3 separate regions of the Homo sapiens genome follow, and regions 1 and 3 are each linked to region 2. The links come from fine-mapping of genetic effects on gene expression. A gene starts in region 2. Each other region holds a variant in brackets. All regions are shown on one strand. Distances are between the middles of the regions. Region 1 overlaps ST3GAL3 (ST3 beta-galactoside alpha-2,3-sialyltransferase 3). Region 2 holds the start of ATP6V0B (ATPase H+ transporting V0 subunit b). Region 3 overlaps ST3GAL3 (ST3 beta-galactoside alpha-2,3-sialyltransferase 3).

Region 1 (2,840 bases), 260 kb after region 2:
GGCATATACCTAAGAGTGGAAGAGGGTATGTAACTAGAGCTGTGGTTTGAACATGTCCCCCAAAAAAGCATGTGTTGGAAACTTAATCTCCAATACAACAGTGCTGGGAGGTGAAGCCTAATGAGAGGTATTTAGGTCATGAGGGCTCCACCCTCATGAACGGATTAATGCCAATTATAAAAGGGCTTGAGGCTGTGAGTTCAGTCTCTTTCTCTCTCTCCCTCACTCTCTCTTGCCCTTCCAGGTCCTGCCATGAGATGATACAGCAAGGAGGCCCTCACCACATGCCAGCCCCTTGATCTTGGACTACCCAGCCTCCAAAACTGTAAGAAATAAATCTGTTTTTTATAAATTATCCAGTCTTAGCTATTGTTATAGTAACACAAAATGGACTAGGACACCTAGAATGACATCTACTGGTTGTATGGTAATTCTATGTTTAACTGCTTGAAGAAATGACAGCGTGTTTCCCAAAGTGGCTACACATTTTACATTCCCAACAGCAGTGAATGAGCATTCCAATTTCTCCACATCACCAGCTCTAACACTTATTCTTTTTTTCTTTAAGAGACAGGGTATCACTCTGCGGTCCAGGCTGGAGTGCAGTGTCATGACCTTGGCTCAGTGCAGCTGCAACCTCCTAGGCTCAAGCGATCTTCCTGCTTCAGCTTCCTCAGCAGCTGGGACTACATGCCTAGCCAATTATTCTATTTTTTGTAAAGATGGGGTCTCACTGTGTTGCACAGGATGGTCTCTAACTCCTGGGCTCAAGTAATCCTCCCACTTCAAATCCCAAACTGGTGGGATTATAGGTGTGAGCCACTGCTTATTCTTTTTTTTTTTTTTTTTTTTTTTTTTTTTCTGAGACAGAGTCTTGCTCTGTTGCTCAGGCTGGAATGCAGTGGCATGATCTCGGCTCACTGAAACCTCCGCCTCTCAGTTTCAAGTGATTCTCCTGCCTCACCCTCCAGAGTAGCTGGGATTACAGGCATATGCCACCATACCCGGCTAATTTTTGTATTTTTAGTAGAGACGGGCTTTCGCCATGTTGGCCAGGCTGGTCTCCAACTCCTGACCTCAAGTGATCCGCCCACCTCAGCCTCCCAAGCCACCGCTTATTCTTTTTTTTTTGAGACAGAGTTTCACTTTGTTGCCCAGGCTGGAGTGCAGTGGCATGGTCTTAGCTCACTGCAACCTCAGCCTCCCAGGTTCAAGCAATTCTCGTGCCTCGGCCTCCCATGTAGCTGGGATTACAGGCACCCGCCACCACACCCGCCTGATTTGTTTTTGTATTTTAGCAGAGACGAGGTTTCAACATGTTGCCCAGGCTGGTCTCGAACTCCTGAGCTCAGGCAATCCGCTCATCTCGGCCTCCCAAAGTGCTAGTATTACAAGCATGAGCCACCGTGCCTGGCCCCA[A/G]GCCACCGCTTATTCTTATCTGCTGTTTTGATTCCAGCCACCATAGAGTGTGAGGTAGCATCTCATGGTAGTTTTGATCTACACTCCCCTGAAGGCTGATGATGTTAACCCTCTTTCTATGTGCTTATTTCTTTACTTCTTATTAGCCAATCTAGCATTACGCCAATTCTCTGTAATAGTTAAGTAATTCTTACATTAAACCTTATCTGTTCAAATTACCATGTGATTTCTCTCTTTTAATTGGATCCAGACTCCTGCAAGATGAGTAGTCAGTGACTTCCTGAGTAGAAATCAAATGATCTACAATGGTTTTAAAAACAGAGAACAGAAGAGTAAAGCTGAAAAATACTTTGTCACTGGCCAGGTACTCCCTTTAGAAGCAGGTAAGAGGCCTGGTGTGGTGGCTCACGCCTGTAATCCCAACACTTTGGGAGGCCAAGGCAGGCAGATCACCTGATGTCAGGGGTTTGAGACCAGCCTGGCCAACATGGTGAAACCTTGTCTCTACTAAAAATACAAAAATTAACCAAGCGTGGTGGTGGGCCCCTGTAATCTCAGCTACTTGGGAGGCTGAGGCAGGAGAATCATGTGAACCTGGGAGGTGGAGGTTGCAGTGAGTCAAGATCACTCCACTGCACTCCAGGCTGGGTGACAGAGTAAGATTCCATCCTAAAAAAAAAAAAAAAAAAAAAAAAAAGATGTAGCAGAAGGATAAAAACACGTATGGGAACTTTAAACACCTTTAACTCAAACAGTGGCTTTTTTCTGTTGAAGGAGGGAGAAGAAGGGAAAAACACATTAGGAAGGCTTTCAGTAAAAATGTAATGTTCTCTTTATTTAAAAAATAAAAAAAAACTCAAGCAAGATGGCATATTAAGATTTAATGATAGACAGGCGCAGTGGCTCACGCCTGTAATCCCAGCACTTTGAGAGGCCGAGGCGGGCGGATCATGAGATCGGGAGATCGAGACCATCCTGGCTAACACAGTGAAACCCCATCTCTACTAAAAATACAAAAAATTAGCTGGGCATGGTGGCGGGCGCCTATAGTCCCAGCTACTCGGGAGGCTGAGGCAGGAGAATGGCGTGAACCAGGGAGGGATAGCTTGCAGTGAGCCAAGATCGCGCCACTGCACTCCAGCCTGGGCGACAGAGCAAGACTCTGCCTCAAAAAAAAAAAAAAAAAAAAAAGATTTAATGATAGAGCCGGGCGTGGTGGTTCACGCCTCTAATCCCAACACTTTGGGAGGCCAAGGCAGGCAGATCACCTGAGGTCAAGAGTTCAAGACCAGCCTGATCAACATGGAGAAACCCTGTCTCTACTAAAAATACAAAAATTAGCCGGGTGTGGTGGCACATGCCTGTAACCCCAGCTACTCGGGAGGCTGAGGCAGGAGAATCGCTTGAACCCGGGAGGTGGA
Region 2 (2,500 bases):
GAGCAGAGCCCAAGCTGTCACTGCCCTCAGCATGCCTAAGACCCCAGTGACACCACCTGCCATGACTCAGCCCCTGCCCCCAGTCCCACCACCCCAATACTCACCAGGCTGCCCCAACCACAGACAGGGAGATAGCTAGGCCAATGCCCAGGTTGGACCACATGAAGGGCGAAGTCTCCGTCAGGAACCTGTTGTGGAAGCAGAGAAGAAAGCAGTTCAGCTCTAGCAGGGAAGCGGAGCACAAAATCTTAACCCCTCAAACCCCCTTCAACCCCACCACCAGTTCTACAGGCAACAACTGACCGCGTATTTCCCAAAGGTCCATGTCCCAGGCAGGCAGTGGTGTGGGGGAGGGACTCAGACCAGAGAAAAGAAGAGAGGCTGCAGGGAAGAAGCTTCAAGGGGAATCCTCCCCCTGCCCTCCCTTACCATGCCACATCAAAGCGGAAGCCCAAATCAAAAATGGTGTAGCAGACTCCTGCAGCAGTGAGGGAGAAAAAGGGGGTTACGGGCTGCTCGGTAGAGAGAAGTTCTTCAACCTAAAGTAGCTGCCGAGCTGAAGGGCCACCTCCCTGAAGGGGCGTCCTCAGGCTGCCCCCAGGTGACAGTACAGCTGTGTAGACAGATTCCTCTGCTTAGGCCTCCATTTTCTGCCATTCCCTCGCTAAAACCACCTCCCAGACCAAGCACCTGCGCAGGCAGGGTCGCCACCCGCAAGCCCGAATCCGAGGCGGGACCGAGGGAGCAAGCGCTCCAGCCAGATCCCGCCGGCCCAGTCCGTTCCGCTGTTTACCCAACAAGCTGTGGGTGGGGGAGGGCAAAGCGACTGGGAAAAGAGGAACCGGAGCAGCCGGCTTGTGACCGAGCGGGCCGGTCAGGAGCAAGAAAGGGGGGACAGCAGTGAGACGTGGGAGCGAGGGGAGACAGCGATAGTGGCAGGACGGGGGAGTGCTGCCCTCGCGGCCCCTACCCGCCCGCACCCCTCCTCAAGCAGCTGGAAATCCGGGTCTCCTTTGTCGGAGTCAGAGGCCCTCGCAGGCGCAAGTCCCCAGAGCCTCGGGTGCAGAGCGCGCGGGGGGCCAGTATTCCCCGCAGGCCACTTCCCCGCCGAGTTCCGACCCGGCCAGCTCGGCCGCGATGCTGCTCCCGCCCGCCAGGACCCGGCCTCACCCACGGCCAGCGCGCAGGCCCAGAAGGCCACGAAGACCCCGGAGTAGAGCAGTGCTAGCCCCGTCATGGCGGCGACGGCGGCGGGGGTCGGAACGGCGGGGCCGGAGCTACAAACGCGTCCCAGCGTCCACCGTCCGTCCCGCAGTCTGTCCGCCCGCCCCGCAGCGTCACCTAACTCGCCCACGTGATGCGCCGGTACCACGTGACCCCACGCCGGTTCCCCGCGCAGCGCCGCCGCCCGTCTAGAGCAAGGCGACGCTGGAACCGCAGGCGCTGGGGATTGTGGTAGTTGTAGTCACGCGTCTCGGCGGAGGCTTGGGCGCCCTCCTCTCTAGGAACTTCGACATCTGGCCGGTCCTTCTCGAGTCTCTCCACCTCGCCCTGCCAGCCCTGTTTTATTCCCGAGCCTGCTCGCGGGCCCCTAAGGCGTCCTCTCTGGCAGCCGTGCGTCCTAGCCTGTGGCGGGTGGCGCCGCGCGTGCCCTCTGCCTCACCTTGCTCACGGCGTCTCTCCGCCCCAGTGCGCCTGTTGGCGCTCGCTCCGCTGCCTGGCTAACACCTGCTGTCCTCCGAAATCGTCCTTCCGGCAAGCCTTCCCTAACCCAGTGGCAGGGAAGCGCGTTTGCTGGGCTCCCGCGATGTCCTGGTGATGCTTATTAAGCTTCAGTAAGATGTCACTACCCTGTCGAAATGCCCTGATGGCTCCCATTTCATTCAGGAGAAAAGCCAAAGTTCTCACAATAGCCTGCTAGGCTCCCCACGCCCCTCAGCTGACTTCACCTTCTAATATTCCCCCACTAACTCCCTCCTCTGGCTGCACTGCCCTCCTTGCTATTTCTTTGAACGTGCCAACCATACCGCGACCTCACTGCCCTTGCACTTGCTCTCTCTGCTTCTCCTAACTATACATGCGGCTCATCCTGTAACTTCCTTTCAGTTTTTGCTCACCTTCTTGAAAAGGCCTTCTCTGACCATTCTGTTTAATATTCCACCCCACTTAAACGCTCCTCTGCTTCCCAGCTTTACATTTCTCACGGTACTTACTGATCACCATTTGGCATACTAAGTATTTTATTTGTCCAACTCCCCTGGAAGAGTGGAAGCACCATGGCTTTTGTGTCGCTCACTGCTGTATTTCCAGTACCTGGCACAGAGTGTGTCCTCAGTACATATTTGTAGAACACATGACTGATGCCCACTTTGTCTGGGTTACCTTGTTAGCTTACAGCTCTGCCTCCACCATTAGACTAGGCATTCCCTGAGGGCAGGGACCACATCTCCTTTGTTCACCTTCAATACCCTCGACAATGCCACTGTGACCAGATTCTCAA
Region 3 (2,500 bases), 76 kb after region 2:
GTAACCCGGGCAATCTCCTGACCTCTTTGCCCCCTGGTTGCCATTGGGTGATTTCGGCTTTGGGTCATTAATGTTTCCTTTGAAGGTTCTTACTCGTTCTTTGCTGCATTCAAGGGGCGGGATTGCTTAGGAGTTGCGGAAGCCCAGGGCAAGAGGGGAAGAAGCTGGTGCCAGGAGAGCTTACCACTCTCTCCTTGTAGACGATGTATTTCAACCACTTAAAGTCCTGCCACTTGAAGCCGGCGAGGACAAAGAGAGAATCGCGCTCGTACTGCTCAGGCCGCTGCATGGCGCCCTCGGGGTAGGTGATGCGCAGTGTCGTTTTGCTGCCCACGTCCTTCTCAAAGCCTTTCACTGGTGCTGAATTCAGTCTACAGAGAGCAGGCCCACTCAGAGCCTGGGCCTGTGTTTGGGAAGGCACCATGACCCCAGACTATCCCAGGCATGGAGAATAGGGAGTCCAGGTCACCTGGACCTATTCTCCCCAGGTGCCCCCGCTAGTTGTCTGTTCCAAAGCCCTCCAACCCAGAGTTCTTGAGGCTTCCGTTGACCTCCAGCCCAACTAGCCAGACAGACAGTTCTCAATGGGCTCAGGACTAAGGGTTGGGGCCACGACACTCACCCGAGGTGCCATTTTGGGGAGCTCACCTCACCACAATGTCATAGTCGTCAATTCGTGACCCCAGAGACTTGTTGGCAAGAACGCCTCCATTGCCCACGATGATGCAGCGGCGGCAGCGGAGGCTGAGGGGAGAGAGGCGGAGACCTCTGTACAGAGAGCTGCCCACCAGGTCTCTTTCCCTGCTCCTTTGGCCCTTGACCCCACGCCCTTGTCCAGGACCAGGCTGGGATAGAGGAAGAAGACCAATGGGCTTCTGGCAGCATTTCTGAGAGAAGGCCTGAACCATACAATGGGTAGCTGGGCCCTGAGACTCTCCAGCATCTCTATCTAGGCCCTGACACTTCCCCAGGAAAACAGGGCCATGGAAAGGCTTGGGTGCCAGGCGTGGGTGGTGAGGAGGGAGCTTTGGTAAGATGACATTCTAGGGTAAAGGTTCCCCAAGGGGTAGTGGTGTTTAGGCAGGCTTCAGGGGAGAGGGAAAAGTGGGCCGAGCTTGGGGCTATACCAGGAAAGCAAGAAAAGGGGAACGGGACAGGAGGCTCTAGGACTCAAGGCTCCCAGCAGCCACTAGAGAGCTTACCCATCTTGCTTCTCCCATCCCTGACCCTGGGGCTTCCTGCTCTAGGGTCTGTTGGTTTGGGAGCTGTCACTGCCTTCTGGACTTAAGCCTTGCCCCCTTCACCTGCCCCCGCCACCCAGGCCCTCAGTCCCATTGCTGGGCTAGTCCCAGCCCCAGTGTGTTCAGTTCTTACCCTCAAACCTCTGGTATCTGAGGACTGGGATGTCCTGCCAAGTGCTGACAGCCCGTGGGGG[T/C]GCAAGTCAGGTGGAGTGGTTCCACTTACCTGCTCCACCCACCCTGTGTGTGTACTGTATGTGCATGTGTGGATGTGCTGGAGAAACTGCCCATGTCCAGGGAAGGCCAGCTGGGCCTCAACACCTCTGCACACCACCAGGCAGCGGTGGGTAGGAGGCTGCACAGTGTGTGGCTCACCTGTCCAAGGCAGGGGTCAGGCGGTACTCTTTGGTGACTGACAAGATGGCTTTGATCAGATTGTCTGCAGACAGAGGAGAGAGGTTTCTGTTACAGGGTCACTTACCTTTCTATAAAATGTTTACTGATAATCCTACTGGAAGACACAAGTCCCTAGGGGCTAGAGTGAAAGTGGAAGTGGAGAGAGCTCTGGACACAAGGATGTATTGGGCCACTGCCCTGACTTTCTTCCTGAGAAAGGAGGTGATGGCAGGAAACAGACAGGCATATCACTGCCGGGAGCCCGTCCCTAACACTGGCACGCAGCTTCTCTCCCAGGCTTCTGGGAGGCTCATCTGGTTTTCTGAGGCTCTGTAGTCAGGCCCCAGGACATGCATTCCCAGGCCAGGGCCTTCCCTGGAAGCTGGCGCACGCAGTCTCCCTGGAATGGGAGTACCTGCTCAGAGCTAGAGACCACCTTGTACTTATCTCTGTGCTCCCACCCAGCAGATACCAGGAAACAAATGAGGAGACACCCAGCAACTGAAGAGCTCACCACGTGCCTCATTATCTGACATCACCTTTCCCTCACTTCCTCCCTCTCACATTGCCAATCCTGAATCCTGCTCTTTGCCAGGCTGTCTTTACCTCCTCACCTCTTTACTCCCTGAGCCTGGCTCTGCCCACCTGCACTCCATTCAGCAAAGACCCCCATGACTTCTGTGCTCTCAGACCTGTGCCCACTATTTAGACCTCATCTCCTTGGCCTCTCTCTGGCTTTGGCAATAAGGACTGCTCTTCCAAACTCTGGTATCATGAGAGCACTATAATATGATGTATAGTGAATAGCAAGGGTATTGGCTTTGGAGTCAAATACTGGCTGTGCTCTGTGACCTTATATAAATCAT

Evidence for each region. PIP is the estimated chance that this variant, and not a neighbour inherited with it, causes the effect.
Region 1: its variant is the best candidate, but not a certain one, in a credible set for the expression of ATP6V0B in atrial appendage (GTEx, PIP 0.84).
Region 3: its variant is the best candidate, but not a certain one, in a credible set for the expression of ATP6V0B in whole blood (TOPMed, PIP 0.84).

What each region holds. Positions count from the first base shown.
Region 1 is chr1:43,717,956-43,720,795 of GRCh38, reverse strand. The region is part of intron 1 of ST3GAL3 (ST3 beta-galactoside alpha-2,3-sialyltransferase 3); the gene reads right to left. It overlaps ST3GAL3-AS1 (ST3GAL3 antisense RNA 1), which reads left to right. Exons shown (of 4, transcript NR_125986.1): 2 at 245-325; 3 at 1,670-1,802. Among named protein-coding and RNA genes, the nearest start is that of ST3GAL3-AS1, 8.0 kb to the left of the region's middle. The variant A/G (reference allele first, on the strand shown) is at 1,420.
Region 2 is chr1:43,973,778-43,976,277 of GRCh38, reverse strand. ATP6V0B (ATPase H+ transporting V0 subunit b) reads right to left here and starts at 1,318. Exons shown (of 8, transcript NM_004047.5): 1 at 1,171-1,318; 2 at 430-478; 3 at 105-188. The coding sequence starts at 1,237. It overlaps LOC124904167 (a long non-coding RNA gene), which reads left to right and starts at 1,413. Exons shown (of 2, transcript XR_007066053.1): 1 at 1,413-1,835; 2 at 2,391-2,500. RefSeq lists silencers at 780-829, 1,230-1,279 and enhancers at 499-1,331, 1,530-1,579, 1,630-1,749, 1,332-2,165.
Region 3 is chr1:43,897,412-43,899,911 of GRCh38, reverse strand. ST3GAL3 (ST3 beta-galactoside alpha-2,3-sialyltransferase 3) reads right to left here. Exons shown (of 12, transcript NM_006279.5): 7 at 1,614-1,677; 8 at 649-744; 9 at 185-371. Among named protein-coding and RNA genes, the nearest start is that of ARTN, 35 kb to the left of the region's middle. RefSeq lists an enhancer at 1-229. The variant T/C (reference allele first, on the strand shown) is at 1,436.